Linked DNA regions of Homo sapiens: regions 2 and 3 are each linked to region 1. The links come from fine-mapping of genetic effects on gene expression. A gene starts in region 1. Each other region holds a variant in brackets. All regions are shown on one strand. Distances are between the middles of the regions. Region 1 holds the start of LRRTM1 (leucine rich repeat transmembrane neuronal 1). Region 2 overlaps CTNNA2 (catenin alpha 2). Region 3 overlaps CTNNA2 (catenin alpha 2).

Evidence for each region. PIP is the estimated chance that this variant, and not a neighbour inherited with it, causes the effect. A credible set is the group of variants that fine-mapping cannot tell apart.
Region 2: its variant is the best candidate, but not a certain one, in a credible set for the expression of LRRTM1 in esophagus muscle (GTEx, PIP 0.75).
Region 3: its variant is the best candidate, but not a certain one, in a credible set for the expression of LRRTM1 in lung (TOPMed, PIP 0.71).

The regions. Positions count from the first base shown.
Region 1 is chr2:80,300,483-80,310,900 of GRCh38, forward strand. LRRTM1 (leucine rich repeat transmembrane neuronal 1) reads right to left here and starts at 4,270. Exons shown (of 2, transcript NM_178839.5): 1 at 3,670-4,270; 2 at 1,396-3,396. The coding sequence starts at 3,337. The coding sequence ends at 1,769. All of the region lies in intron 7 of CTNNA2 (catenin alpha 2), which reads left to right. RefSeq lists an enhancer at 3,087-3,712.
Region 2 is chr2:80,419,085-80,429,502 of GRCh38, forward strand. It overlaps CTNNA2 (catenin alpha 2), which reads left to right. Exons shown (of 19, transcript NM_001282597.3): 9 at 365-517. Among named protein-coding and RNA genes, the nearest start is that of LRRTM1, 120 kb to the left of the region's middle. The variant C/T (reference allele first, on the strand shown) is at 5,252.
Region 3 is chr2:80,634,990-80,645,407 of GRCh38, forward strand. The region is part of intron 18 of CTNNA2 (catenin alpha 2); the gene reads left to right. Among named protein-coding and RNA genes, the nearest start is that of LRRTM1, 340 kb to the left of the region's middle. The variant C/CT (reference allele first, on the strand shown) is at 4,062.

The DNA.
Region 1 (10,418 bases):
TTCTGGTGATACCATTCTGCATTTCAAAAAGCTGATTTTGCCTCCTAAGATTGGTAGCTGGAGACATTTGCATGTTGGGGGATGGTAGTGTGTGGTTCCCCATCCCCCCATTCCCTCTTCCTGCTATTTGGACTTCTCTCTCTCAAAAAAAAGGAAAAATAAAAACAGAAAGATGCAACTCTTTAGTGTCCGTTAGAGAGGGAAGAGAAAGACTTAGGGACATGGGCTACATTGGTTCAGCATCTGTCATCCATGACAGTTTATTTCAATCATACATTTGCTTAAATTGTCATCTGATGAAGGAGCCCTCCGTCCAATGCACACAGCCTTCCCCTTCCCTTCTCTGCACCCACCAACTGCCACTACCACCACCTCCTCACTCTTTAGTTCAATAGAAACTGAAATCTCAATGATGGACCTGGAAACCTATGAGGGGTGAGAAGGAGCAATCATCACTCTCAACACAGAAAAAAAAAAAAGGGAAAGCAAGCATTACACAAAAGGGCCATCTGAGAAGAGGCAGCTTTTCTGTCCTGGGTTAACAAATTATTCCCATCTCAGAAATATGCAAACACAGGATCAAATGAGTATCTTCTCCCACTCTCCCCACCCCATCACTGCTCTGTCACCTCTGCCCCTAAAGTCTCTTGCTACAAGTCATTACCCTGCAGGCATTCATCCTAAGGTAGGTTTTTCTCCTCATTCCCCATAGAAACTAGGAATGTGCTGTCACTGTTTGGGAGCCTAAGCTTGCTGCAGTCTTAGCAATGTGCTCCAGAAGCACAGCTTTCAGCCCTAAACATCGGGATTCTGCCTCCTTCCCCTCAGCCAGACCAAAGAGAGCAGTGAGCTGAGGGGCTCCCTTTAACAGGGGGTACAAGAAGGGCACAAATGCTACTAAGTCTGGTGAATCAAAGACTCAGGAGAATTAAGAACAGGTGGCATTTGGGGATGAGATTTTGAGGTGATTTGAAAGATGGTTACATTAAGTGCAAAAATGTTTCGTGTTCCTAGGAGAAACTGTCTGGCATTGCTTTTTAAAAACCATTTGCAATGCTCTCTGCTTTAAAGGCTGAGTAAGGGTGCCCAGTCCTCAGTCCACCTCTCAGTTGCCTGAAGGTGGTTAGATTGCACTGTCCCTGCCCCAGTAATATAAAGGGTCTTGCAGTTTTTCTTTTTCTAGTCCTTACACATGTGGAGTAAATTAACATAAATCATTAATCTGATAAGCTTTCTTTGCCCTTCTTTAAAATTTCAAATTGAATCTGACTACGTTGCTCCTGGATTTTCCTTCTGGCCCCTGGACAACTCCCTCCCCACCCACCAAGGAAATTTTAACTGTTGCTTTTCTTGTAACACAGGTAACAATTCATTTAGGTTACACCAGTCTGTAAAAACTGTAAATGCTATTTTATTTTAAACATTTTAGTTTACAAAAAAAAAAAAAATCAATGATTGGTACCTTTTTTACACTCTCAGATTCCTGAATATGGACAGATCTTCAAAGGGAGGAAGGAGTTCTCATATGAAATTTAAGATAGACTGTCCTGAAGGTTGTGGGGTGGGGTTTTTTGTTGTGTTTTAATTCGCTTTTGTTTTTAAGACACAATAAAGCTAAAATGTCAAGTCTCTGGGAGAGATCCCCTTAAAGTTTCAGTCAAGGAGCATATCAGAGCACAGACAAGGAGACCCCAGCCTGGTGCCCGCCGGCCCGTCCCGGCTGCCCAGGCGTATTTGGTAGCGCATGGGTTGAGAGCCACTGGGACAATCACACCTCGCATTCCCTCGCGGGCTGCTGGTGGCAGGTACACGAGCCATACTCGTTGATGATCACCAGGGCTCCCTCAATGTGGTTCGGTTTGTAATCAACGTAGTATTCCTGGGCAGACATGGCAGCCATCTGATGCATGGTCTGTTTCTGCTTTTGCTTCCTGCGCTGCGTGACAAAGCACTGTCTGAGCTGCCTGAGGCTGGCTGGGAAACACTTCCAGGACACGTAGAGCACCAGGACCACGATGAGGAAGGAGAAGATGAGGGCCATGGTGCCCGTGACCACCTTGTGGATCTGCACGGCGTTCTCGGCGTGCTCGCCGCCTGGAAGAGCCACGGTGGCAGGCTCGAATGTGCCGTCGTGCTGCCCCTCCCCGCCGTCCGCGAGCGTGGTGGCCGAGCTGGCAGGGGGCCCCAGATCACTGCGGTTGGTGACGGCCGAGAGCAGGTGGCCGCTGGTGGGCTCGGCCCCATCCTCGCACAGGTGGAAGGCGTACACGGCGTCCAGGACGTCCTCGCCCTGTGCGTACTCCGGGCTGGCGCACTGCAAGTTGCCATCGTAGCGCCCCTGGAAGTTGTTGAGCCACGAGGCTAGGGCACACACGTTGCGCCCGCAATCCCACAGGTTCCCGGCCAGGGTGATGCTTGTCAGGGACTTCCAAGAGTTGAGGATCCGGGGCTCGATGTAGGTGAGGCGGTTGGAGTCCAGCTGCAGGGACTGCAGGTGCGGCACGGTCTCGAACACATGGGGCTCCATGTACTCGATCTCGTTGCCCGACAAGTCCATTTTCTCCAGGTTCCAAACCCAGTCCAGCGAGCTGACCACAATGGCCACCTTGTTCCTCCGCAGGCAGAGCGAGTGCAGGGAGATGAGGCGCGGGAAGTGGGCGAAGTTCACCTTGACCAAGTCGTTGTGCTCGAGGTGCAGCTCGGTGAGCTTAAACAAGCCGGCGAAAGAGTTGCGCGCCAGACTCTTGAGCTGATTGTATCCGATGTCGAGAAACTTGAGGCTGCGGCAGTCCTGGAAGATGCGCACGGGCACAAACTGGATGGCGTTGGCCCGCATATGCAGCGTGGTGAGCTTCCGCAGCCCGTGGAAGAGGTCGGGCGCGAGCGCCTGCAGCTTGTTGTACGAGAGGTCCACGCTGCGCAGGTTGGGCATGGGCCGGAAGGTGGTGTTGGGCAGTTGGGTGATCTGGTTGGAACTCAGCGTGAGTTCCTTAACTCGGCGCAGTTTCTGAAAGGCGTCCCCCTGCACGGAGCAGATGTGATTGTGATCCAGATAGAGCCACGTGAGCTGCATTAACCCCGTGAACTGGCCGGCGCGCAGCTCCGAGAGGCTGTTGTAGCGCAGGGACAAGCCCAGCAGGCCGGACAGGTTGTGGGGCGCCTCGGTGAGGTTGAGCGCCTCGCAGTACAGCAGCCGCCCCTCGCACCGGCACAGCTGCGGGCACCCGCTGGGGGCGGCGGGCAGCATCTGAAAGCAGGCCCCCAGCAGACACAAGACCACCCCCGAGGGCCTCCTCAGCAGCCAGTATAGACAGAGACCGAGCAGCAGGAAATCCATTAGCGAGAATCTTTCCAGAGAGACTGGAGAATGTCCATTGGAAGCGCTCGGTCAGAAATCTACATCATATTTTATTCCGAGGGAGGGGAAGCGGGGGAGGGGGAGAAAAGGGCAAAAAATCAAATAAATACATAGAAATAAAGAAGGACCCCCCTCCCCAAAAACCACACGTTCACCTCTAAGCATGCAGAAAGCTGGGCAGCATAGAAAGTTCACAGCCACGGAAAGATCAAAGAGATGGTGATTTGGTCCATGTTAGATGCTGCAGCAAAGAAAAGGGAGGAAAAAAAAAATCTTCGGGAAAGAATTTAATTAAAAAGTGTCTTACCCACCCTTTTCCAGAGAGTGACAACCTCCATTCAGCTGCTCCCTTTGTGTGCAGGCTAATTATATGCAGGGCGAGAGAAGACCCCTCTGTGTTTCCGAGGCAGCCCCGGTCCGCGGCCGGCGGATCTGGCAGGCGCACAATGTCTCACTTTGCTGCTCGGCTCGGGGCTGCAAGGGCGGCCGGCAAGGCGGGGAGGCGACTTCTAGGACCCGCAAGTTTCCCAACTACGTGCCGGAGCCCGAGCTTCGCCTTCCTGCCGCCTTCCTTTCCCTCTGCAGTTCGGACTGTGACGTTGTGGGGGGAAAAAACTCCAAACTCGGGGCTCGCGACTCCCCAGGATCTGACAGTCTGGTTAATGTCCGTCATTGGAAACGACCACTGACCGGCGCCACCTTTTACTCCGCGGAAACAGCCTGCCATTCGCGCCCCGGGCAGCTGCAGAGAGCGGGCTCACTCATGCTTTGCGGGCGGCGGGCGGCGGGCGGCGGGCGGTGGGGAGGTGCGGACGGCGGCGCGGGGAGCGGCGAGCGGCGCCCGGGCTCCTTCCCTCCACCAGGCAGTGTGCGGCGCGAGCTTGCACAGGCACCTACTGCTCACTGAGTGTCGTAAGCTGCTCACGATTGTGCGTCTTCCCCGAGCACCTCAGACATGGGCAGATTGAAAAGGGGTGGGCATAAAACCAACATTTTACCGAACCACTAAAGTAATATATGTTTTTTGATGAAACGGAAAACACTTTCAGCTTTTTTGTCCATATTTCAAAAAAAAAAAAAAAAAAAAAAAGGAGGGGGGAGGGAGGTGGAGGTAGGGGTAGCATCATCCACGACAAGATATTTCCAAGTGGGAAACTGAAATGTTCTGTGCTCTCCCCCTTGCCTTTTGGGGATATATTCTTTTCCCCTTTAAAACTGTCTACGTGTAAGAGATACGTAGGAATCTGTAGAGAAATCAACGTTTGGACCTTTGCTTTAGAAAAGCAACTTGAGAGAAGACACAGGAAGGCAATGATTTGGGGCTTGGCTAAGATTTTTGGGGTTTTTTCCCCCTCTTGCGGGTACTGGAATTCTGCAGTCAGCCAGCCCTTTTTTGAGGTGGAGAGGGGAAATGCTTTCCAAACCCACCTAGTTTGGGAAGCCATCCAAGTCCCGGTGGTGTGAGATCCAGTGTGGCAAAAAGGTATGTCTGTGTGCAGGGAGACTTGACTGAGATCCCTCCGGGGCTTCATCAGGCTCCACAGATACATATGGGGTACAGAGTGGATTAAAGAACGATTGTACTGTCTGACATGGGGAGGGCTTACCCTGACTTGTGCTGTTCATGGTGATTACTGGGCCCTGCAGTGCACCCCACTCCAAGAGAGTGTGAATGTGTAGGGACGTGATAGTTTAAGCCATAATGAAGCCTACCCGTCTCCATACACACATCCTAATTAATCTTTGAGACTGCACTAAGTTGTGCCACTTTTTCCTCTGAGTATGACGAGAAGCCTTTGCCTCATTATTTCTATTCATAATCATTTATAGATAGGAGTCCTTACAATGAGCTCTCCCCCCACCTCCCCACACACACACCTTGTGCCTACTGGTCTGTAGAGGGTCTGCCCTGGGGAGGGTCAGTTGGTCATCTGTTTAAACAAAGTCCTCCAAGATGGCTGAGAAAGCCTGCGGGAAGTGAGTGTGGGCAAGCCTTCCTTCTTGACAAAGATGCCCAGGGAGATGGTAGGGAGAGTCAAATGTGAGTCTCCAGCTCCACTGTTTGAATTCCCATCGTTTCTGCCTCTAAGGAAGTCAAAATCAGTAGGCATTATATGTAGTGGCACTTACTTTGATAGGAATGAGGGTGGATTACCAGAGCCAGGGTAGATAGACTGGACAAGTAACTGGATTGGTCCTTAGCATCTAAGCTGAAGAGGCCAACCAATGGAATCAAAGTCACCAAAGACTGGTGGTACTTTTCAGGAAAAGTCATATGAACAGGGGCATGAATCATTCCATTTTGTATTCATCTGAGCTCTGCCCTGGTCATTCATCTCTGAGATGTATCATTTAATTGGAAGGAACACAAATCTGAAATGTCCTAGACATCACATGCTGTCTTAGGAGTTAGAAGAGACATTAGAAAATCAACCCCCTTAATTTTGCACGTGACTAAACTGAGGCCAAGAGACATCATGGTTTATCCAAGGTCATACAGCTTGCAACTGGCACAGATGGTTTTTTCTTTCTTTCTTTCTTTTCTTTTCTTTTCTTTTCTTTTCTTTCTTTCTTTCTTTCTTTCTTTCTTTCTTTCTTTCTTTCTTTCTTTCTCTCTCTCTCTTTCTTTCTTTCTTAATTTGCCATTCTTGATGATTGCCTCTCTGTCACTCTTGCTGCCTACCTAACTCTGGATCAGGCATTTGCATGTTTCATCCTGGCACCTCCAAGGTGCTGCGGAACACTTTAACAGACAGACAAACAAATTCACCATCAAGTGGTTTCACCTCTTGCCAAGACAATTATTCGTGACAGCAGGCCAGCTGATGGAGCCATAAACTCTAAAGGGTTGGGAGGTGGGGGAGGGGTGTTGAGGAGGCACCCGCAGGGTTAAACAGCGGCCAGCCATTCAGCGAGTACTGTGAGTACACACCACCCAATCCCTAGGGTTGCTAGGAAAAAAAAAAATCCTCCTAATGCTGGCTGCTTGGCAAAGTGGTGACAGAGGCTGCCAAATGGGCAAGAAGAGGTCCCACTTTGGATGTCACTTGATTTGTAGAGCTGGTGCAGAGAGGCAGAAGAGTTGAGTGTTGGCAAGAAAGAAAGGGAATAAAATTAAATTCACTGATTTATATGTGAGTTTTCTTCTAAGTGTGCTACTCAAAACTTACAAGATGCTCCTAGGCTGTAATTAAAATAAATAAATTATATATATATATTATATATAAATATATATTTTCTATATATTGCTTTTTGCATTATTATCCTGCAAATCATTTCATCTATATGGTATCTTTAAGCCTTTCCCACCTCTAATGTGGCAAGTTTGCATCTTTTCTACAGTTTTAAACCCCTTGGCAGAACCGTATACATTAACAGATTGAAATGAGCTTTATTGAAATTTAGCTATTCTAAGTCATCTAAGTTGCAGAATCCCAATTTATTATGTATTTAAAGCATACCAGCACTGATTAAATCAATGCAAATTAGGTTAAATAAGAACAACATGAATCGAGTGTTTCAGCAAAGTTGAATCGAGAAACGACAACTTTTGAGTCACCACAGCAAGTCGATATGGCTGTTTTTCATGAGTTTTAATTTCATGCCTGTAAGTGTCCAATGAACTAAAAAAGGAAAAAAAGAAAAAAAAAGCTCACCTGAAGTTTTTTTTCTTTCCTCCTGCTTATTCTCTCATATGTCTGTACCTGTCTTTTGAAAATATCTGATTCACCAGGTTACAATGTAGCTATTGCATGTACTGGATCAATCTCTTCTTCCCGGGTGACCATAGATTTCTGTTGGCAAACTTCTTCTTCAAATGTTGTATATTGGATAAGAGATGCTTTATATGCTTTGAAAATACCCTTGACATTTTCCATGTTTGTCAGGGGAAGGAACCTGAGCTCATCTAGCTGAACCGCTATAGCTGCAAGTCTAGTACTAATAGTTGGGCATCAAGAATACCATCCCAAGCCATCATGCCAACATGTGATTGGGCACTGAGGCCAGACCTCCAGTTTGGGGTAAGAAATGATAAGAATCTTGAAAATATGGATTCAGCAAATGGGAAGGAAGTCTGGGTTATATGAGTTATGAATCTGATGGCCAAACATAATCTGGAACTAAGGGGAGGTAGAAGAGAGAAGCTCATGGAGCAAATTCGTTGTAGTTAGAGAGGCCAGAAGTATAGCTTGACGGAGGGAAGAGTCGATTAATTCCTTCTCTCTTCAACCTTGTAAATTAGCCTTTGCCTAATGAGCCCTCCTGTTTTTCGTGGTACTCTATGTTGTGAAGTGGAGTGGGGGAGTAACATACAATTTTTTTTTTGGTATGTCATTACTTCTGTTTTATCTCAACACTTCCAATTTGTTCATTTTAGTCAAAATAATTTGTGAACACAGAGGTGCAAGTGCAGAAAGTCTGAAATGAATCTGCATTCTGGGGATTGGCTTTCCATTAGCAATCTTTGTCAATGTTCAAGGAAGGAAATTTGAGTGATTATTTTAATGTTCTGTCATCGCTAGCACCAGCCTGGACCTTGATCTTTATGCTGTTGTCTTTAATTTTCAGTGGCAGCGAACCATGGCTTTTCTTTAAAAGGAAACCTTTAGAAGAATTGGCGGAGAGTGGGAGTCACAATTTCAAAAAGAGAGAATTAACTTTGTTGTTTCTGTGGGCACATACCATACAGCTGGCATTTTACAGAATGCTCAAAAGGTGCATGGAGAGGCTGAGGGTGGGGGCCCCAAGGCTGCTCTCAGGAGATCCACTTAGGAGAAACAAATTAGAAATTGAGGTCATTCTACTTATCAAACTTTGTCCAACTCTTAAAGCAACGTGGTAACATGGATAGCAATAAGAAACTAACTGCCATGCTCTATGAATGATGTAAATGATGAGAATAAATAATAAAAGAAATAATAAATGAATTAATAATAATAAATAGAAATGCAAGTTCTCCTGGGCATGGTGACTCATGCCTGTAATCCCAGCACTTTGGGAGGCTGAGGTGGGCAGATCATCTGAGGTCAGGAGTTTGAGGCCAGCCTGGCCAACATGGTGAAACCTGTGAAACCCCCTCTCTACTAAAACTACAAAAATTAGCCAGGCGTGGTGGTGGGTGCCTGTAATCCCAGCTACTCAGGAGGCTGAGGCAGGAGAATCACTTGAACCTGGGAGGTGGAGGTTGCAGTGAGCCGAGATCACGCCACTGCATTCCAGCCTGGACAACAGAGTGAGACTCTGTCTCAGAAAAAGGAAAAAAGAAAAAAAAGAGAGAGAGAGAGAGAAAGAAAAGAAAGAAATGCCAGTTCATGAGGCCTGTCCTCCCTCTCCACAGGTTTTCTCTATACTGGTGTAGAGAACATACTGGTGCTCTGATTATGCCATGTTATGCTTACCTATGTTTTTATATTCTCTCCATCTTTGCTTACCTTCATTTTAACTATCCTTCAAGGTTGATGGCAAATCTCCTCTATGATTTCTTAACTGACTCCGAGGCCCCTGCCCTCTATAAAGCAATCCCTTTTTCTTCTTCTGAACTCCATTAGCAGCTTACTTTTATCAATCTTGTGGTCCTGTTCACTTTATATGAGTGTGGCAATAATTTCTAATGATAGTATTTTAAAACTGAAAGGGACATTAAACATCTTGGAGATAAAGAATAAAAAGACCTTGTTGGGATTTCTGCTTTGCCACTTTTTAATCGGTATAACCCTATACAAGTCACTTCTTGGTCAGTGAAATAGGGCTAAGGATGGCTATCTCAGAGGATACTTGGGGTAATTAAATGAAATCATGTAAACTCTATAGAGTTTGTTCATTTAATTTTTGTCACTTCTGTGTTTCTCTATTTACATTTTTTTTTGTTTTTGAGACGGAGTCTCGCACGGTCACCCAGGCTGGAGTGCAGTGGCATGATCTCGGGTCACTGCAACCTCCTTCTCCCGGGTTCAAGTGATTATCCTGCCTCAGCCTCCCAAGTAGCTGGGATTACAGGCGCCCGCCACCACACCCAGCTACCACATCTCAAAAAAAAAAAAATGTAAATAGAGAAACACAGAAGTCACAAAGATTAAATGAACAAACTCTAATAGAGTTTGGCCACTCAAAAGTGTAGGCCTGAGACCACAAACCTTGGAGCTTATTAGAAATGTAGATTCTCAGGCCTCTCCCCAGACCCATGGAATCAAATCTGCATTTAACCATTAGCCCCAGGTAATTAAATTTTGAGATGCATTATTGGAACATTCACAAATTTTAACCTGAAATAAAAACCCAGATATCATTGATTCCCTAGTTTTGTAATTGAGAAGCTAAAGGGACAGAAATGTTAAGTGATTGCCCACCCTTGCTAGTGGAATTGGGTCCAAAAAAATAAAACTTTCTGAATAATGTGTTTTCTCTCCTATTAGATTTTAAACACTTAGAATGGAAAGTCTATGTGTACCACAGGCCTGAGCACTTAGCAGGGCTCTTAAAGTTTGATTTTGTAATTGGTACAGCAGGCAGTGTAGAGCCTTCATAGGTGCTAGCTTTAGGTATCTTTCAGCTGGTTTATTCCCATATTATCCTAGGAGATAATGGTATTCTGACATCTGGCATAAGACTTTGATTGCAGTCTTCCAAGGCAGGCAGAGTTGCATGGTAATTGATCCCATGGGGCAGCCCAACATGTTGCCCCTTCACACATACAATTTTGGAAGAGTCAAGACAGCAGGGACAAGTGAGGGGAGGTAAGTTGGAGGTGCATTAGGGTTGTCTTTCTGGGAAAAGCTTTGATGTTAACAGAGTTTGCTTACATTACTCCTCAGTTTTCTTATCACTGCCAATCTGCTACTATGGCATGTGTGTATTTCTCATGAATACTTTATTATAAAAAATGTACTTTGGGAGGCCGAGGCGGGTGGATCACTTGAGGTCAGGAGTTCTAGACCAGCCTGACCAACATGATGAAACCCTGTCTCTACTGAAAATACAAAAAATTAGCTGGGCCTGGTGACGGGCGCCTGTAATCCCAGCTACTTGGGAAGCTGAGGCAGGAGAATCACTTGAACCCGGG
Region 2 (10,418 bases), 120 kb after region 1:
GTTGATGCCTAGATTTTTCCTTTTCAAAGAGCCTGAATTCTTCAACTGTGTCATGATTCAAAACATCCAGAAGGTTCGGGTCAATGAAGGATGAGAGAAGGCCTTTGATGGGAGAGGACCCATAGTGTGTATTGAGCAACAGGCCATTATGTAACTTTCAAGTTGACATATAATATGTTTAATTCACATGCTTCCATCAGTCATTGGTTTTCCTTTAATAATGTAAGCACTGGGAAAATTTTAAAAAGAAAATAGGAATATTATCTCCATGGGTAATGAGAGCTCAAAAACAGTTTAGAAAAAAAATGGGCAATTATACTATTTCTTAATTGTATGTCATTTTTTGTTTTTGTTTCAACTGTAGCTTCGGAAAGCAGTGATGGATCACATATCTGACTCTTTCCTGGAAACCAATGTTCCTTTGCTAGTTCTCATTGAGGCTGCAAAGAGCGGAAATGAAAAGGAAGTGAAAGAATATGCCCAAGTTTTCCGTGAGCATGCCAACAAACTGGTAGAGGTAAGTGTGGAGGGGCCTGAAGACTAGAGTTTACCGATGGGTTCAATCTCTGCATATGGCTCTTAGAATTTCACTAGAGAGATATTCTATTGTATTTTTGGAGAAATAAAGTCCTGGAATCATTCTTTCCTTTACTTTCTGATTACTGTACCCCCTTTCGAAGGAATCAAGCTACGAATCATCTTTCTTTTATCTGTCTCACAATTCTAAGCATGCTCTGAAACATATCTGCCATTTTTCCTGAACAACAAGCAGGAGCTGAAACAAAAGAAGTGGAAGGGAACTCTGGAGTGCTGAATACCAGTTTTGATTTGAGGGAGTAAATTAAAATTTCTGAATGGAGGCCTAGGACACTTCTCCCTTTTTTCCCACCTCAAACCCCTGTCCACTCCACCCAGTGGTGCCTAGATGCTGTCCACACTGGGAACTTGTGAAAAAAAAAAAAAAAAAAAAAAAAAAAAACCCACCTTCCCCAAAGAGATGTTTGAACTTTTGGTGGAAGATCTTGGGGCAGTACTAGGGTAAGTTAAGCATTGTAAGTATATTTTATGTGTTAGAGGAATCTGTGGGAGTTGTTTTATAAATGCAAAATTTTATGGGGTAATATTGAAAAAAAATATTGTACAAAGTAAATGACAACTAGGCTGCCTAAATTTAGGAGCTGAAAACGAACAGCCTGGCAAAGGTAGGATTAGTGATGTGGGGCTAAATACAATAGAAAATAGAGTTGTTGCACAACAAAATATGTGTGCTAGAGAACAAGAGCCCAGGAGGGATGAGGATGGATCCTGGAAAATTTAGGGAATGGTTATTAGGGCCAGGTTAAACTTTTACAGGCTCTGAGCACTTAATCCTACCACCACCACCACCACCACTGTGATGCATTCCCACTTTAATTCATAATAAAATAAAATCACTTAAAATGACAGAAAACTTAAATGCAAGCTGAAAGGAAAATAAGTTCTTTTTTTTTTCATTTGGATGGAAAAATCAAAATCCTCAGAAAGTTCTTTAAATGTGAAATCCTCTCTGCTTTTCCTGGAGTGGGTGATGGGGGTGGTGTTCGATTTAGTTGCATGCTAAGCACCTGCTTAGTTTGCGCCTTGGTTAATCCAGCACTGCAGGTGCCTCGGGCTGAAGTCACCCAGCCAACAGGAAGTCCTACATCAAGCCTCTGCTTCTCTAGGATACAGGCTGAGCCATCATCCATGACAGCAGTCAGCAGGTTCTATGTGCAAAAGCCTTGGCCACAATAATGGAAGCTTTGAACTTCCTGCTGTAACCCCAATGTCTTGAGAAAATACCAGCCTAGAGCTAAAACTAGGGTAATACAATATCAAAGCAGTTTTTCTGGCTCTGTTCTCTCATATCAGGCAAGCCTTCTATCACCCTTCACATTCCACCTACATGCTCGGAGAGTTCACTTAGCTATTTAGGGATCCAGAGTCTTTCCAAGGTTGACCTTGGAAGCTCTGATCACTTTCGTATTTTGAGAAGGGGAAGGCGGAGAAGGAGGAGGATATGGGTACAGAAGGAAGGGAAGAAAGAGGAGGAGGAAAAAAAAATAATGCTGATGGGTGCTACAAAGCTTTAAATATTCACATGTAATAAAATAATGTTAGCATATAAATATACCATCCCATCTGTATAATTACAACATTTACAAGATAACTGCAGAGTTTACTGAAAATATTCATTGATGGTGTGTTGTAGACACTCTGGATGAAGAATGGGACATGGATTTCAAGTTGTGTGATAAACATCTACTTTCAGTCCTATTAGTGCCTTTACTTCATTTGCAGGACATATTTGAATTTCAAACTTAACATCTTGTGTAAATATGAGACTGGGGCCAAAGACCCAGCTTTTTCCACTCATTCTCCTTTCTCCTGTGACAGGCGCTGGACACATCCACCCTCTCCCCTTATTCTGTCTTTAGGTTCCATTGTAGGTAAATCTGTTCACTACATGTGATTCTTGATCCTCAACTTGTGACAAGCTGAAAGCTTAGATTACTTGCAGCTCCACATTTCAGAAAACTGCACTTTGCCTCCATCAGGTATTCCCTTCATTTCCCATGGATGGTCACTGTGGCCAGCAGCATTTTAATGTCTTGATGCCTAGGAGATACAGGGGCTAGTGTGTGGTCTGGCCTCTGTGTGACTAGGGAGTAACTGAAATCTACAAGTTTGCATATATACAAAAAAAAAAAAAAAAAACCCAAACTTGAACCACCGAGCTGAGTGTTAGCCTTTTTCTAGTTTTGAAAAGTGTGTGGATATGGGCACCTTTCTTAGTTTCTGTGTCTGTAATATGAAAAAGTCGGTTTGTATATTGATTTTATATCCATTGAACTTGATAAATTCAGTTACTAATTCTAAAATTTTGATAATTTCCTTTTGGATTTTCTATGTACATAGTCATGTGCCTGCAAATTATGACTGTTGTATTAGTCTGTTCTCATGCTGCTAATAAAGACATATCATATGCAAGACTGGGTAATTTATAAATGAAAGAAGTTTAATTGACTCACAGTTACACATATGTGGGGAGGCCTCACAATCGTGGCGGAAGGCAAAGGAAGAGGAAAGACACATCTTACATGGCAGCAGGCAAGAGAACTTGTACAGGGGAAGTCCCCTTTATAAAACCATCAGATCTCATGAGACTTATTCACTACCAGGAGAACAGTATGGGGAAAACCACCTCCACGATTCAGTTATCTCCACCTGGCACCACCCTTGACACATGAAGATTATTACGACTCAAGGTGAGATTGAATAGGAACACAGCCAAACCATATAAGTGTATTTCTTCTTTCCCAATACTTATAGTTTGTTTTTTTTTTTTTCCTTGCATTATAGTACTAGCTAGGACCTACAGTACAATATTGTGGTGATAAATATTTTTGTGATTTCTGGATCTCAGTGGGGAAATTTCAGTTCTTTCCCATTAATTATATTGCTTGCTCTATGTTTCTTTCAGATACTTTAATTAGGTCAAGCTAGTTCTAGTACCCATTTGCCAAAATACTTTTAAAAAACTATGAATAACTATAGAATTGTATCAAATGCTTTCTCTGCAGATGTTGAGATGATTTTCTCGTCTCCTTTATTCTCTTTCAGAGGAATTGATATCAAAGTTATGCTTTCCCTTAAAAAATGAATTGAAAATTTTTTCTTCCTTCTATTTTTTGGAAGTGAATGTATAAGATGAGCCTCATTTATTTTTTAAATGTTTGGTAGAATTCACTGATAAAACAATGTGAGTGTGGAAAGGTTTAAAATCATATGACTATTTAATTTTTTTAAATTTCTTTTAAGGTCAGTTTTGTTAATTTGCCTTCTAGGAATTTGTCATTTAATTTTCTAATTTACTGGCATAAAATTGTCCATAATACATTTGTATTTTTTGTTAGATGTATAAGGATCTGCAGTACGGTTTCTTTTTTCCCCACTCCTCATTTAGCTAATTAGTATGCTCTCTTTTTTCCTTGATTAGTTTTGCAGATAGTTTATCAATTTTAAAAATAAGCTTTCAGCTTTATAGATTTGTTTGTATTCTATTTTATTTATCTCTGCTCTCTTTATAGTTCTTTTTGGTTTTTTCCTGCTTTCTTCCAGTAAAACTTACTTCTTCTTTTCTAACTTATTGGAATGGATAATCATGTCATTAATTTCTTGCCTTTCTTATTTTAGTGCTGTACTCATTTAAGGATATAAATTTCCCTCTAATCTATGCTTAAGTCTGGTTATTTTCTACTGCTCTAATTTTAAGTTCACTTATCCATGTGGGTCCAATATACTCAAAACTTATATATTGAGTTCAATTTTTTTTTAAATTTCTAGTTGATTCTTTTTTAAAGGGACTCCAATTCTCTAGTAAAATTTATTATCAGGTCATCTCCTTTAAAAAAATATTAATCACAGTTATTTCAAAAGCCTAAGTCAAAGAACTCCAATGTTTGGATCAATTTTGTTTTTGTTTTGGGGCGGCTCCACAGATGGCAGCCCCCAACACATCCAAAATCCACTGGGATGTTAATATTGATGATGCAACACACCCACCAAGAGGGTCCAGACAGGTTTATTGCTCATGTAATGGGACTTCAGGGACAGCAGAGCAGGCAACCATGCCAGTTCATAATGGTTCAAACAAAGAGAAGAATAAGTGGGTTTAGTTTTTATCATGTTAGGGCATGTGGCTGGGATCAGGATTTCTATGTGACAGCCAGGATTTGAGTGGTTTGTATTTCCCAATAGCAATAAAAAGGTGGCCCCTCTTATCAGTTTGCCCATTTTGGGGACAAAAGGGAAATGGGGGAAGGGTAGGACTGACTTAAAAACTGTCAGCAAACGTTCTTTTTTTTTTTGAGATGGAGTCTCGCACTGTCGCCTGGGCTGGAGTGCAGTGGCGCAATCTCTGCTCACTGCAACCTCCACCTCCCGGGTTCCAGCAATTCTCCTGCCTCAGCCTCCCAAGTAGCTTGGATTACAGGCACCCGCCAGCAGGCCCAGCTAATTTTTGTATTTTTAGTAGAGACGGGGTTTCACTATGTTGGCCAGGCTGGTCTCAAACTCCTGACTTTGTGATCTGCCCTCCTTGGCCTCCCAAAGTGCTGGGATTACAGGCGTGAGCCACCGTGCCCGGCCCAGCAAACATTCAAAATAGACTAGCACTGTTCATTACAGTTCACCCTTATTGTCTGACTGATGACTGGAATGTGCCATGTTT[C/T]ATATTATTGAATTTAGACATGTTTAAGTGAACTATTATGGGACTCTATGAGGCTTTGAAAATGGAGACAGACTTTATTGCTTGTCTGTTTTTATTAATTTTTCTTGTGATTGTGTTTTTTGATATGCTGGGTGATATTGGATTGAATGGCAAACATGTGTGTGGACAGATATAGAGGGTCTGGATAATGTGTTCTCCTTCCAGAGAGGATTCACCCTATTTTCTGTTGGGCAGCAGAGAGGCAGACCATTTCATTACAATCAAAGATCAAAGTGACTTGAACCTAGGTTGTAGCACTTCTAAAGTTTAGCTTACCCTTCTTTCACCACAGTCCTGAAGAATAATCTTCCAGGGTGGCCAACTGAGGATCAGATGTGTCACCTTATTTGTGAAATCACAAACCCCAATTTTTGTTTTTTAACACCACGAGACTGAGTTTGCTTTGCCTTGCTTTTTGGATGGTCTCAATTTGCTTCTTGCCTGTTGCTATTTGCAACTTAACTGACTGTCAAACGCCTTGGGGAAAAACTGGGGATGAAGCTCCAAGCTCGCTTCTTTGAACCTCTCTTCTCTATGGGATCTTAAGTCCAAGTTGGCTGCCTCAGCGGGGCTGTGCTCAGCTCCATTTTCTGCCTCCTCAGCCCTATGAGATTGCTGAAAACTCCAAGGAATTCTCTTCCTCTCAGCAGCGACCTTCTTTCTGACTTCTCAGATTCTCCTTCAACACTAAGAATTAGCAAATCCCGGCGAGGGTGACTGGAGTGACAGGCGGAAGGTTAGGCTCCCCTCAATGAGCCTCTCTTTTTGATGTAGTTTAAGTTTTGACATCTTTGGCAGCTCTCCTTTGCTTTCAAGCAAATTGCTTTTATTGTGTATTTCTAGTGGTTCTCAGCAGGCAAGTGGGTCTCTTGTAGGCTACTCCGTCATGTCAAGAAGCGCAAATTCCTGAGAGGGCTCATTTAGATAAGTTTATGGTGTTTTGTTGTTGTTGTTTTTGTTGTTAGTATTTTTAGTCAGACATCTTTTTATCCAGTGGAAATTTTGCGACTTACATACCTCAAAAAAATAAATGAATAAATCAATAAAAACAGTTCTGACTGAACTGAAATAACAAGCTTGGAGGTCTACTTCCTACAATTCCCTCACTTAATGCCTCTTCTCCCCATTAAGCACAACCTTCCAATCCTTCCCAGGGCGCCTTTGATCTCTGTTTGAAAACCTCTGATGAATCTCTACATTTCCATTAATCACATAAGAATCATTCATAAATATGTGAAATAATCAATCTATGAATCAGTGATGATGGTTTTAGTCCTTCAACATTTTTCTTGAGTTTAATGATAGTATATTCAGTTTGCTATCTATTTTATGGGTTTTTTTTCCCTTGTATTTGTGTGCCATTTTTTCCAAGTTTGACATTCATAAAAATAGAGTCTATGAAGTGATTGGGCCCTTTTACAACCTACAGAACTTGAGAACCTTAGAAAAGTCCTCAGCAAGGACAGTTTTAGTATATATAAAATATTAGTAAAATGTTCATAGGAAAAATAATATGGGTTCTCATAATTGCTTTAACAAGTGAAATTTTGAGAAGCTTTTGTTGTTGTTGTTGTTGTTTTCTCCACAATATTTAAAACATTTAATAAAATTTGGGGAAACTTCCACTGGGGTGTGTTGATTAGAATTTAACAGGTCAACTATGATGTAAAGTCACTATAGGAAGTATCATCTGTAGAACTAGATAAAATAATTATTAGTAATTTCCTCTCATCTTCAGAATCATGCCCTTCTAAAGATTAGCTAAGGACTTCAGGGTGGGGCCGACCCTGAGGGTATGCCGAGCTGATCCAGAAACACCTGTGGTACCTCACGTCTAAGCCTTCTGGAGAAATGGAATACAAATTATGGCAACTCAGCAGCAAAGCAGTTCGGTCAGGGCTGGGGTGGAGTGGGTGTAATTTGGGTACAAAATATGCATCGCCACAATGAAAATAAAAGCTAATCTTGAAAATGAGATGCAAGATCAACATAGCTATTTTGGGCCTCTGAACTTGTTTTATTCCTTCCATTGCTTGCCTGCTCAGTCAACCTGCCTGCTTTCCCTTCTCCTCCCATCTCTACCATGCACACCTGAGTGCAAGCCACACATTCTATTGTGCAGGCAACTGCAGTGGCCTCCCCACAGGCCTCTTTTATCTGCCTGGCCCTCTACAGTCCCTTCTGCACAGAGCAGTCAGAGTGAATTTCTAATAATGCAAATAAAATCATATAATTTCCCTGCCTGAGGCCATTCAGAGACTTCCTCTTCTTATCAGGTTAAAGACCAACATTGTAAAGAAGCTTACGTGGCTTTCAGGATTTGACCTTCTCTTCAGTCTTCAGGCTCACCGTCCTGTCCCCTCCTTCCTCCACCACCCCCAACAAGGAATCAGCCACACTTGCCATCTTTTGCTTGTTAAATGTGTCATACTCCCTCCCATCCTAGACCTATGCTTGTGTTGTTTGTTTCCTGATGCATTCCCCACTCTATCCTTTCCTCTAGTTTCTAGGCATTGTTCAGCTTTCAGCCTGAATATCATGGCCCCAGGTGGGATCAGTTCCTTACGTCTTTCACTTCATGACATCCCTTTTACTTTAGGATTGTAACCATTCAGCTCTACAACTGTATGCTAGTTCTTCTGCTTAGTTTACCAATTCCTTTAGGAAAGAGATCAGGTCTAATTGAATCCTAACTACAACCCAGCTCCTAGCCAAGCACCTAGCATATAGCAGGTATTCAAGAAAGAGATGGTGCTTAAAAGAGAATAAAATAATAAATGTAGCCAGTGATGTTGCCAGCTTTTGGGCCCCTGAGGGAATATATTTCTATAGCACAGTTGTAGGATCCTAAAGGTCACCTTGGAGATCAGCAGTAAAGAGGCATTGTACTTTTTTAATTGTCTAATTTATTACCAAGAAGAAATTTCAAATCTGTGAAGAACTAATGTGAAGAAATACTATTTGTACCAAGTAGAAAACACCTGCTGTTTGCTACGAGGCTCCCTGAGTTGAATTAACTCTCTCAAGAGGCTCCCAAAGTTGTGTCCCTAACTCCACTATCATTCCTTTCCTGTCCTCTGCCTGACAAGCATGCTTTGGGTTCTCATCCTCAGCTAGTGGATGTGAGAGAGGGAGCTGGCTCTATCTGACAAAGTAAAGTACAGCACTGAAGCCATAGCAATGATGAGTTAGACAAGGGAATCTCAATTCTTTGCTTCATCTTCTTGACTTAGTTACTCCTGATAGCAGTGCCCCATGAAGGATGAGAAGCTGTATCTACTGGAAATTCAGGGCTTGGAAGTCAGAGTCAAACCCTAATACTCAGAATCACTAATGTGATCATCCATCAGTTCAGCACCAGAGTGCCTTCCTTTCACCCTTGAGTAAATTGCTCTTCTCAATTAATCCTTCCCCTTGCACAATGCTGCATTCAGCAATATTTCCTGAGAGGCCCATGTGCTGATGCTGGTCTAGTTGCTGGCAACATAACCATGAACAAATCAGAGGAAGTTCCTGCTCTCATGGGACATGCATTCTCTTGGGAAAGATAAGAAAGGGAGAGGTAAGTGTATACTATGTAAGGCAGAACTATGTGCTGTAGCACAAAATTAAACAGAGTAGGATGATAAAGAATGAAGGAGGAGGGCATGTGAGGTCGGGAAAGTCTTCCCTTCTAAGATGACTATTAAATGGAGATGTGAAGGGAGTGGAAGAACATTCCAGACTGTGAAAAAAACAAGTCCAAAGACCCCAGGGCAGCAGTGTGCTTTGCAAGTTTGGTAGAAAACAAAGAGACCAGTGTGACTGGAGCCGAGAATGAGAGGAAAAATTACAGAGATTAAATTGAGAGCTGGGTATAAAGATTTTGTAGTTTACTCAGATATTGAGTTCATTGGAAGGTTTTGAACAAAGGCATGACATAATCTGACTTCCATTTTTAAAAGTTCACAGTGCTGCTTGATGGAAAATATAGAGTAATAAAAAGCAAAGAAAGAAGAATATGTCCAATGATATTGCAATAGTCCAGCAAGTGATTAGTACTATGACTAGAAGAGAGGCAAGGTCAGTGGGAAGATGCGGCTCAATTTTCCTGTATTTTGAAGGTTGAGCTGAGATATTGGATGTTGGGATGTGTGAGACAGAGAAGAGTCTGGGATGAATCCATATTTTGATAAGCTGCAGTGACATAATCAGTTGAAACTTTAATAAAACATAGCCTACAATCCCAGACTGTTTCTCAGTTGGCTCTGGCTTCAGTTGTCTGATAGATGTGGTCCTAAAACCCCTACACAAATGTCCTGGGTTTAAATAAATGTAAGAGTTTTGTATGTTCCAGGGCCTTGTTTCAAACCATGAACTAAAAAGAAAATCTAGAAAAATTGCATCAACAACTATATTGATGATGATCATGCCACTGCACTTCAGCCTGGGTGACAGAGTGAGACGCTATCTCAAAAACAAAACAAAACAACAACAAAAAACTACATTGATGGAATTGGACCTCCATGCATTTTTTTAAGACAAACCCAATATTTTCATACCCCTTTTTCTCCTTGCTGCCTTCCTCAATACAGCTAATAATATTTGAACTACAACTGAGTTACTGAAGTTTCTCTAATCAATTGAGCCATAGCAATTCTGTAAATAATAATACTCTATAAGAGCTATTTTGTTCAGCTCACTTATGTTAAACTTACAGTAAATTTTGTCATTTAAGAAGTATATATTCCAGTACTATTCTCCTCCGTAATTTAAGAATTCCCCAATTCTTAAACCCTACCATATTTTGTAAGGTTTTCTATAATACACAATAAAGCATTGCAGAAAAGTTCAAGGCCCCCCCTTAGACTCTTAATAACTATTTAGATATAAAGCTAGGGTTTTAAAATTAACTATTTATAACCTTATTTAATGCTTCTGACAACCTTATGAAGTAGCCATTATTTTTTACTTCAAATTACAGATGAGAAACCTGAGGTTTTAAGAAGTTTAATAATTGACCCAATGTCACATAGCTAGAAAGAGGCAGAATCCATGCATAAGCCCGAGTATCCCAGACTCCAGAGACCACATTCTTAGCCACTGTGCCACACTGCCCCCAGGCTCTTATTCAAGGTATCTGTACAGC
Region 3 (10,418 bases), 330 kb after region 1:
AAGAAAAGGCTTACGGATGCTTAGATCATTCTCTTCATGTCAAGAGGTGGTCTTTGTGAAGATAACTCTTGCAAGAACCTGAAGTATAATTTAGATGGAAGATAGATAATAGAATGGTTACAACTCATTGTTAAAAGTAATAGGAAACCCCTACCTGCATCTGTGATCGTGTACACAGTAATCATTTGAAAATTATTTGAATGTGTGTTAATGTTAGTGGTGGATTTACAGCTCACAATGGAAAAAGCAGTGACCAGGAAAAAAGAAAATGATTTGGAGGGCATTATTCTGTGTCAACTCAAAAAATATTTTAAAGAAGACAGAAAAAGTTCAATTATTAAAAACCCATGGATCGACTGCTCAAATTTAAAACTAATTTAGTTAAAATTACTGATTTTTAAACTATTATACTAAAGACCTCTTATGAGCCCTTAAATGATGATAGCATTTCCTCTTAATTCTAATTTCTGTAATGAAAAAAGAGTTGAAATTTTAGGTTAATGTAGTGAATTATTTTATATAGCTACATATGTGTCTAACATTTTACTTCAATTTTCTGTGCTATAGTTAAGAGCTCATTCGTTATGAATTATGTGAGGAGAAATTATATTAGAGGTAGAAGTGATATTAATATACTCTTAATTGGAGCAATGATTGCACAGGTGACATGAGTCAAATCATAGCCCTCTCCTGTGCAGTTCTGTTAGTTAGAAGGCCCACACTGGATATGGTAAATGGTTTTATGATGATTGCTAACTCTCATCAATTGCTAGTGTTTGACTGAGCTATGTGTTGAGAAGAATGCTGAGACCATGGCTAGGATCAGTAGGAAAAAAGGACCTGATTGATTGGGCATATCTGTTAAGGATACCAATGAAGAAATGGCAGTAAATGTGTCACACACTAATCATCCTTGTTTTATTGGTTCTAGAAAGGGCTTAGAGTATTGACAAGTATGGGTTGTCTTAAGGATGCCCATTGCTTTTTTTTTTTTTTTTTTTGATATATATCTTCTTGCCTTTTCCTGGCTTTTACACCCATTAGCCCAGGCACTGTCCTTTTCAATAACCTTGGATTTGTTCTTTGGAAGGTCTTTTCATATAACCTGCCATTTGCTACTTTATTTGGTTAGTAAATGTGTGCAGAGCAGGACCAAAGGCAGCAAGATTGTTGTACTTATGTTCTGGAAAGCTAGTTGGATGAGATTTTCAAGTAATCCTAAAGAATATGTAGATTCGAAACTGGGAATTTATTGGTAGACTTAGATGCTGAGATAAGGTCAGTCTTAGTTAGAGATGGCAGGTGCTGGCTTCAGTGGTTTAAGACCGAATAAAAGATTAAAAATTATGCATTTATAACCCACTTTGTAGCAAAATACAGTTAAAGATTTAGGAAACAGTGCTAGGGAACCCAAGTGTTTGTGTTTTGAAGGAGATAAACACAGAGCTTTGGGAGATTTGGCCTTCAGTGTTTGGTAGGCACTTCCAAACAAGAAGGGGGCTCCCTTTTAGGGGTAGTGAGGGATCTCAGCTGGGGTCTAACAGTGTATACCTGAGAATCGAATGAGGTAAGGTGGTGTCATCCTTTACCAGGTAACACCATTTGGTTTTTAATATGAGATATTTATAAATGATATTCTTAACCAAAATGAATAGCTGGAATTTGGGGAATTTAAGGTCCTTGAAGTGGTCGTATAAAATATTTTATATAGACTATTTATTTTGATGCTTCCCAAATTACATGTTTAAACATCAGCTTCCCAGGCTAGATTGCCTTTCCTACACCTTCTAGTAGAGCCACCTTGACTCTCTATTATCAATATTCCTTACCAAGTCCTAAATGTTCTTAGATATTTTAGGTGTCACATTTTTACATAAAATTCCTATGTTTTCTTGCACTCAGTCTTGACTACCCCTTTATTCCATCTAAAGGATTCAGTAGTGCTAGAAAAGATACATAAGTGTTGGTATTTTCCTATTCCCCTCATGAACTTCTCCATTCCTTATCCCTAAAACTGTAATATTCAGGCACTGAGACCAAGCCAAGATGGTGGTAGCTTCAGTAAGAAGAGAGTTTAAAAAAATCTAAAATGCTGAATGGGGGAAACTTTGAAAGGAAAAGAAGGATGAAGATGTAGGAAAAGAGAAACATAAATTTTTTAAGACCATGTTTGGACTCACCTGGTGATTTAAGGAAAGATGGGTCATAATAATAATAAAAGCTGAGATGTATTAAGGGCTTACCATGTGCCAGGCACTCAACTTCAGTGGCATTATCTCATTTAATGCTTTATAATACTAGAAAGTGCTATTTTCATTTTTAATTTTAAAGAACTTTTATGAGGTAGAGGTAAGTTTAGTGGTTGTTCAAGATCGTGTAGTTAGTGATCCATCCAGTCAAGGTTTGAACTCAGGCTTTAAGTCTAGAGTCCAGGTTTCCCTCAGTAGGAGAGATGAAAACATGCATGTAAGAATGAATTACCAGTGACAGAGAGTGCACAGGAGAGGAAGAAAGAGGTGGGGAAGAGGTGATCACAGGAACAAAAGGGGCTGGGGTCCCAAGGAGAGGCAGCAAACATTCACTGGGAACGGAATCTCTCTGCTCTCTCCTCATCCTGGACCTCGGTAGCAACAGAGCCTTTGACTAGTTATTTCCATACACCTGATGAGGAGAGGATCACAGGCTGCATGGGTGTTTACTTCCCCCAACATATGAATAATGCCACATTAGAACATAGCTCCTAGGGCTTAGATGAGAAGAGAAGTGAAAGAATGAGGAAGGATCGTTCCAGATCTTCAGATTTTGCTAATTTTCCAGGCATAGTACTCCACCAACCTGCACCCAAACCGCAGCCTTTGACTCTTCTAGTCTACTTTTCTCTCAGTGATTATGCATTGCATGCTGGAGGGTAGGAGCCATTTTGCAAGTTATTAAATGGCCTTCAGTACTTAGCAGCAGATACCATGTTCATACAAGGTTAGGCAGTTCAGAAAGGGTGGGGTCATTTAGTGACTTTGATCCATTTTATGAAAACATATTTCTCATGGGTTCCTAGATAATTGTTCCTCTTACATTTGTCTTCTGGTCATGATGATATCACCTAGGGAGGGAGAAGGGTAGAAATAGAGGGATCAAAGGTAGTGATGCTCTGCTAGCTGGCTCTCCTATCGGTAAGGCAAAAAGGAGGCTTAGCTCCTTGCATAATTATTTATGAGACATAAACCTTGGGTGGTCAAGACATGCTGATGCACAGAATCAGAGACAAGATCAACAGTTAATGCCTTATGTATTCATGTGACATAAGGACTGTCTGCCCAAGAATATTTCCCAATTATGGGGGGGGTGCCTGAAAGCCCATTGGCTCTTCTCTTTGTTGCATAATTCCTCATGATTTTTTTGTTACATGGAAACCAATAACTTAGAGGAGGTCTCTGGCAGGAGATCCTGAAGGGTTGGGATAAGCGAGGGTGCTGAAAGGAAGGCAAGGAAAGAGTAAGTATAGGAAAAGAAGGTGGGGACTACCTGGATAAACAGGTGGCCCTGTTCCGAACTTTCCAAGGGCCAACCTGTCAGTACTCCCACTTATCTTTGAGATTTCCATGTTAGAAAGAATGCCTTGTTTCGGGTTGAGCAAAAACTGTTTCACCTTTATTGGTGAGAAAAAAAATGGCTCTAAGCCATATTTAGGAAATTTGTTGACTATAATTAAGATTTCATGGGCGTCCCCAAGGTTTACTTACCCATAATTGAAAAAATGCAAATGAAGACAGTTAATCAGTGGACTGGCCGACTATGAAGCACTACTACCTATGTAAATGAATTAAAAATGAAGACACAAAATATGTCCAGTTGAGAAAGTTACCAAAGAGCCAAGTGGTAAATTCCTCAGCAAGGCTGTGGAGAATTTTTTCTTAGCCTGACAGCCTGCAGTGCCTTCCTGCCAAGGTCTTTGCCAATTTAATCTTGAGCCATTCCATACAGATTTCCTCACAACTGGCCTTCAGCACTGGCTGGTTCTCTGGCATTACTTAAGGAAGCCCTGAAGAAAAGATAACAGACCT[C/CT]TTGTCCTCTTTTCTGTGTAATTGATCCACTACTTAGAGCTGTAAAATATTTGCTTTACAAGATCCTGTTATCAAATGGAATTTGAAACTCTTTAGGAGTTATCGCACAGAATTTCACTTATCAGGGATCAGTATGTGTTGTAATATTAACTCTTTTAATGTGGTTTTGTTTGTTTTGAGACACAGTCTGTTTCTGTCACCCAGGGTGGAGTGCAGTGGCTCCATCTCAGCTCACTACAACCTCCGCCTCCTGGGTTCAAGTGATTCTCCTGCCTCAGCCTCCCCAGTAGTTGGGATTACAGGCACCTGCCACCACGCCAGGCTAATTTTTGTATTTTTGGTAGAGATGGGGTTTCACCATGTTGGCCAGACTGGTCTCGATCTCCTGACCTCAAGTGATCCGCCCACCTCGGCCTCCTAAAATGCTGGGATTATAGGCATGAACCACCATGCCCAGCCTTGATGTGTGTGTGTGTGTGTGTGTGTGTGTCTGTGTTTTTAACAATAAATACAACATATCTGTGATGGTCACTTTTACCTCTAACACCATCCTTCCTTGTTAAAATATGCAACCAATTTTTATCACCTGATTTAAAATCATCCCCAAAATGTTTTGCATTTCTGTTAATACTTAAATCTTCTCCTTAATGATTTCATTAATTAGCAACTCATAATATGGTATTAGTACAAAAAAGTGCACAATATGTCTGTAAAATCAGCTGTGGAAATAAAAGCATAAATGCAACATCCTTTAGATAAAAATATTTGTCGGCCGGGCGCGGTGGCTCACGCCTGTAATTCCAGCACTTTGGGAGGTCGAGGTGGGCAGATCATGAGGTCAGGAGTTCAAGACCAGCCTGACCAACATGGTGAAACCCCCATCTCTACTAAAAATACACAAATTAGCCAGGCGTGGTGGCACACATCTGTAATCCCAGCTACTCAGGAGGCTGAGGTAGGAGAATCGCTTGAACCCGGTAGGCGGAGGTTGCAGTGAGCCGAGATTGTGCCACTGCACTCCAGCCTGGGTGACAGCGAGATAACATCTCAAAAAAAAACAAAAAAACAAAAAAGTCAGTATCAGACAATATTTGATAGCTAACAAACAATAGAAATCAAACAATTCAAATACAGAAGTCGTGATACAATGGATGATATATCTGTGCCATAAACAGAATCAAGTTTTTTTGGACAACCCTGTTAAAATGTCTGCTCTTGGGAGGTAAATAAGTTTCCTTTCCCACACTACTTAGCAGATTCTGAAGGAGCAAGGTGCCTGAGTGATTAATAATGCCTGCCATGGACACTATGGATGAGAATTTGTTTGATGAGAAAGAGTGAGTAGACTCCAACACAGAAATGAGAGCTTGCTATCAAGGAAATGTCTTTCTGTGAACATATAAACATTCTGAGATAACTTAAGTGGGAAAAGATGTGATTAGGCTGAACCTTTTCACCATGTCTTTGTTTGCTTGAGTTATTTATTACCCTGGACTTTCTAGAGGTTTTTAAAAAGTGTTATTGATATAGACTCTGGAAAATGTACGCAGGTATTTCAAGATATTTCAAACATGTCACAGTTTCTAAGGACATCAAATAGGTCTTCAAAGCCTCATGGATTTTTAAAACATGAAATGTTCTTCTTGGAGGATAATAGGCTCCAATGCTCTGGGTTTCTAACCTCTAATTCATTAACAGCAAAGCTGACTTGTAGCAAAATTTTTTTTTCCTTGCAAGCAATATGTGACTCCTTTGAGGGAGATAACAGTTTAAATATAAATAAATGACCAGCTCCAGTGGAAAGATTCCAGTTTCCTTGAGGTGTTTGCTTTCAATTTATTGCCAATTCTCCCATCAAAATTTCCTACCCTGAAAACCTACTCTAGGTCTGAACATGTTTAGAACAACCCCCTTAAAATCGTTCTTGTTCTTATATGTTAAAGCTATGCTATTCCCATTTTAAAATATTGCAAAAGGCTAAAGTGGACTTTACACATATTTAGGGAAATATTTTAGCATTATCAAACTCATTAGTGTTATTGGCTCTGACTTACAAAAATGAAAATAAAATAGCAAGGCCCAAATGGAACTGGTTCCTTCTTCCAGGCATTTCTAAGCCATTTGAAGTAATCAAAGTAAACACCTCAGTTCTTTTATTTCAAAATCACCTTCCAGATGGATTTGGCTTATTTTATTCTATTTAGCTTAGCCAGCGGTCCCATGACATTTGCATTATTTTTAATCCAATGACAGATTGCTTTGTGATTTGGATTTTCATGAACTGCCATTTATGTGTCATTAATTTTTGTTAGTAGATGATCAGCTTTTTTGAAAAAAGACATACAATGTGAAAATTGATCTCTCTCTCCATGCATATTGTAAATATATGAATTCAGAACACACAGTCAAATCCTAATTCTCTTCTTTAATCGTATGCCCGGCCTCCACAAGTTAACATTCTAAGACATTTACTATGTCATGTCATCTGCAATGTGTCCCCTACTTGTTTTATATTATTTTTCACTTTTGACAATACTATTATTTGTTTTTAAAGCAAGCTGTTACAAAATAGCATTTATTTTATTTCTATCTTACCTCAGGAAGTTCACCATTCTGAAGGGTAAAAGATTGCTAATTACTTAACTATTCCCTACTTAACCAAGGAAGGTTATTTTCTATTCAAGTAAAATACTTGTTGATGACGTTATATCTTAGATTATTAAAAATATCTTAGATTATTAAAAGGATATTAATATTGATTTTAAAGGTCTTATTCTGAGAAATTTTTTGGTAAATTTATTGAACTTTTGTGTATGGATTTAATCTTTGTAAAAACAGTAAGGAATATGAAAGGACAAAATCAAACATGTTATACACCTACAGTATGCAGAACATCACCCTACATGAAACAATTGGGAAGATCAATATAAGCAAAACATGATTTTTTTAATATTTACTCCCATAAATACAACTGGACCTCTGATAAATCACCTAGATGTAACATACACACCTCAAACTCGGTATGTCCAAAGTTATACTCAGCATTGTAGCACTTCAACATCCTTTATATTTCCGCAATCTAGGTTGAGAGCATTGATGTATACTAAGTTGGACTAGTTAGGTATTTGAGAATTGTCCTTCCTCGTCACTGTTAACCATTCAGTCACCAACAACCTCTTATTAAAGAGTGTTTAGATATCATGCCCACAATGAAGCTGTTTCCCTTCTCCTATCCCTACTTGACTCAAGGTAAATTGCTATTCCTTTTGTTCATTTAGCATCTCGCATCCTACTAAAACACTGTCATACAGTGTTAAAACCTTTAGTTTGTGTCTATTTTTCTCATTGTATTGTGAGCTCTTGTGTTTCAGTGCTTATGTCTATTTGTGTTTCTATACCCAACACTTAAGCACAGTAGTTGGCAGAAAGTATTCAGTAGGTGTCTGAAGAAATACTTGGATGATGTGTAGATGGAAAAATGTAGGGATAGACTGGAGGATAAAAAGTCAGTGATAATTCAACATTTCAAGAGGTGTAGTTGCACTTTCCTTTGAAAGAATGTGGTTGACTTCTGCAGTCGAATTCTGTTTCTGTTGAAACTGAACACCTGTTGCAGCATAAGTCCTGTTTGAATGAAGTAGCATGCAGCTAAGGACATAGGCTTTCAGAAATATTCAGTTGATAACATAAGCTGTAGCAAGAGTCATTTCAAATACTTATTACGATGTTCTTCAGCTTTGGTGATATAAGGAATTAGGCTGCACAAATATTGATAAATGGAAGAATCACAATTCAGATAAGTCTTTGCTCCAGTCTTTCTGCCCATTCAAAACACAAAATGAGGAGAGTATAGGGAACAGAAATCTTTTAGAAGTTGAGTGGTATTAAGAAGAGTAGGAATAGAGGCAGGGGAAAAAAAGACAATGTCCTATAGAAAGGCCTATAAAACAGCTCTCCTGCCCCTATTTGCTTTTCATGGACTGTAATAGCACAAGATGGGAGGAAACATCTGTTTTCTTTTAAACATAGTATTTTGATGTTTTAAGAGAATCATAATAATTAGCAGAAGTCTAATTTCCTGTGGTTAGGGACAGCAGATACCTATGGGATGGAATAGGGAGAATGAGTGTAGCAGATCTTGGTAGATTTTGAGGGCTGAGGATTCATCTGCTCTGGATGGCTCTGGGAAATAGCATGGAGGAATGGTAAGATCATGGGCTCAGTGGTTAGATGGCCTGGGTTTACATCTTGGCTTCACCACATGTTAGCAGTGTGATAATGGGCAAGCTATATGCTTCTAAGTCTCAATTGGTCAAGCCTTGTCTCAGGGCTGGTTGTGAGATAGAATGAAATAAACGAAACTCAGGGAACTAGTTCAGAAAACAGCACATGGTCTAATTTGTTAAATGTATGCCCTTGTTTTTAAACTAGCTGAAAATAAGCAGTTTCTCTTAGGTTAGATACAGGAACTTAATGGGATATCCTATAGGAATATAAAAGGCCCTTAACCAGGAAAAGATGGATATGTCTTTCTGCTGAAAAGGCCTGTCACTGTAATTCAGGTCAGCTTGAGGAAGGGCTGAGAGGTGGTTGATTTTTGAGGCCATTTTAAAACTAGCAAGACTGGACCAGGTAAAGGATTAGATGACTAATAAGAGTAGCTGAGCCCTGCCTAGTATAAATGTGCTTCAGAATAATGGAGCAAATCCAAGACAAATTAGCAGAGATCAGTTTCCAGTGTCTATTTATTTCCATAAGGGTGACTCAAGGCCAGGAAGAACAAGGAAGGGCTGAGCTCTGGGCAGCAACATACCTGAGGCCAGAGGCTATAGTCAGCAAGGATTTGGGCTATGAGGATGAGACTAAGAATCACAGATTGTGAGAGATGAAGCACTTATCAGACATAGCCATGATGTTAAAAGGATGTTGCCAGGTTTAGGGGACAGGCTTCCAGCCTGTTCATTAGTAGAAAAGAGTTCATTTTGGATAGGCAATAACTAAAAAACAAGACCTGAGAGATCAAGTGATGCTTCGGGGGAACATTGCTCCATGGTGGGGTTCAGATGAGTGGGCCTTGGAGAGAGATAGTAGTGGTCCTAATCCCTACTTTGCCAATGACTGCAGGGACAACAACTTACGTTACCTCCCTAAGCTTCAACTTCCTCACTTATTAAATGGGGAGTAATAATCATTCCTACTTCGAGAATTTTTGAAAATTAAATCACACAATTAAAAGGACTCAATGTCAGGCGTCTAGTAAGTGCTCACTGAATTTTGATTATTATGAAAACTTATACGTATTCACTTACCTATCTTGTTGAAAACGCCATCATTACAATAAGTCACAAAAGAGAATGCAACTATGTTAAATAAATGTTCCTAAACTTGGTATTTAAAAACTGTTGCCATGCAGCTTTATTCTAATATCTTTTCTTTAGGAAGTGAAGTTTTAGCCAACCTTGCCAATTGGAAAACAGAGTTTTGGCACCATCTTGGAAAGGCATAAAGAAACCCATTTTTAAATTGGAAAGAATTGTGATTGTGCTGATAATGATCTAAATCATGAAAGTGCATCTACAGAAAAGGGCAAAATGTAACCTTTGGAAATTCAACTTTTTTTAAAAGTCAAATTTTGTATTAACTTTAAATTGGGCTTATTGTTTGTGGAAATATTTGTTCCAGTTCAGTTGGCTGGATCTCTCACCTCCTCACTTTACCTTGCTGCAAATTCAAGATCTGCCTTAGCAGGTGGCTTGAATAAAATTCTTGGCTTTATATTTCAAAGCTATCTCACTCTCAAACAGTGTATTAGGTTTATTTACAGGATTCCTGCATCAGGTTTGAAAGGCAAAGGGGTTCTGAAGAAGAGACAGGCTCTCATATTTTTGCTGCAGAATTAAACACCATCTATTTGAAAATGGAATCTGTGGTAAAAATCTCCAAATTTACTTGTAATCCCTTCTCTTCAGATCAGCTCAATTCTCCCAAGACTCACTCTTTGGGGACCATTTAATAATACAAGAGCAATATCATCTTGTTCTATTTCTACTAATTCTGTTGCCCAAAGCAAATCAATGAAACGTCCCTGTCATATTTTACCCTTTATTTACTCATAGCATGCGATAGAATTAACTAATTTTATGAATTAACATTACTCATTTTTGAAACCTGACAGACTTACAGAGAACTGTGCATTGGCCAAAGGTGTTAGGTATTTAGCTTCTAAAGAAACTGTGACTTATCTGTTCCTGATTGTTCCCAACATTTTGCTGTCTCATCTCTGTCCTTCATTATTTACACTTCTACCTGGGGGTAAGATGGGAAAGACGAAAAAGTAAAATTCATGTGAGATAACTG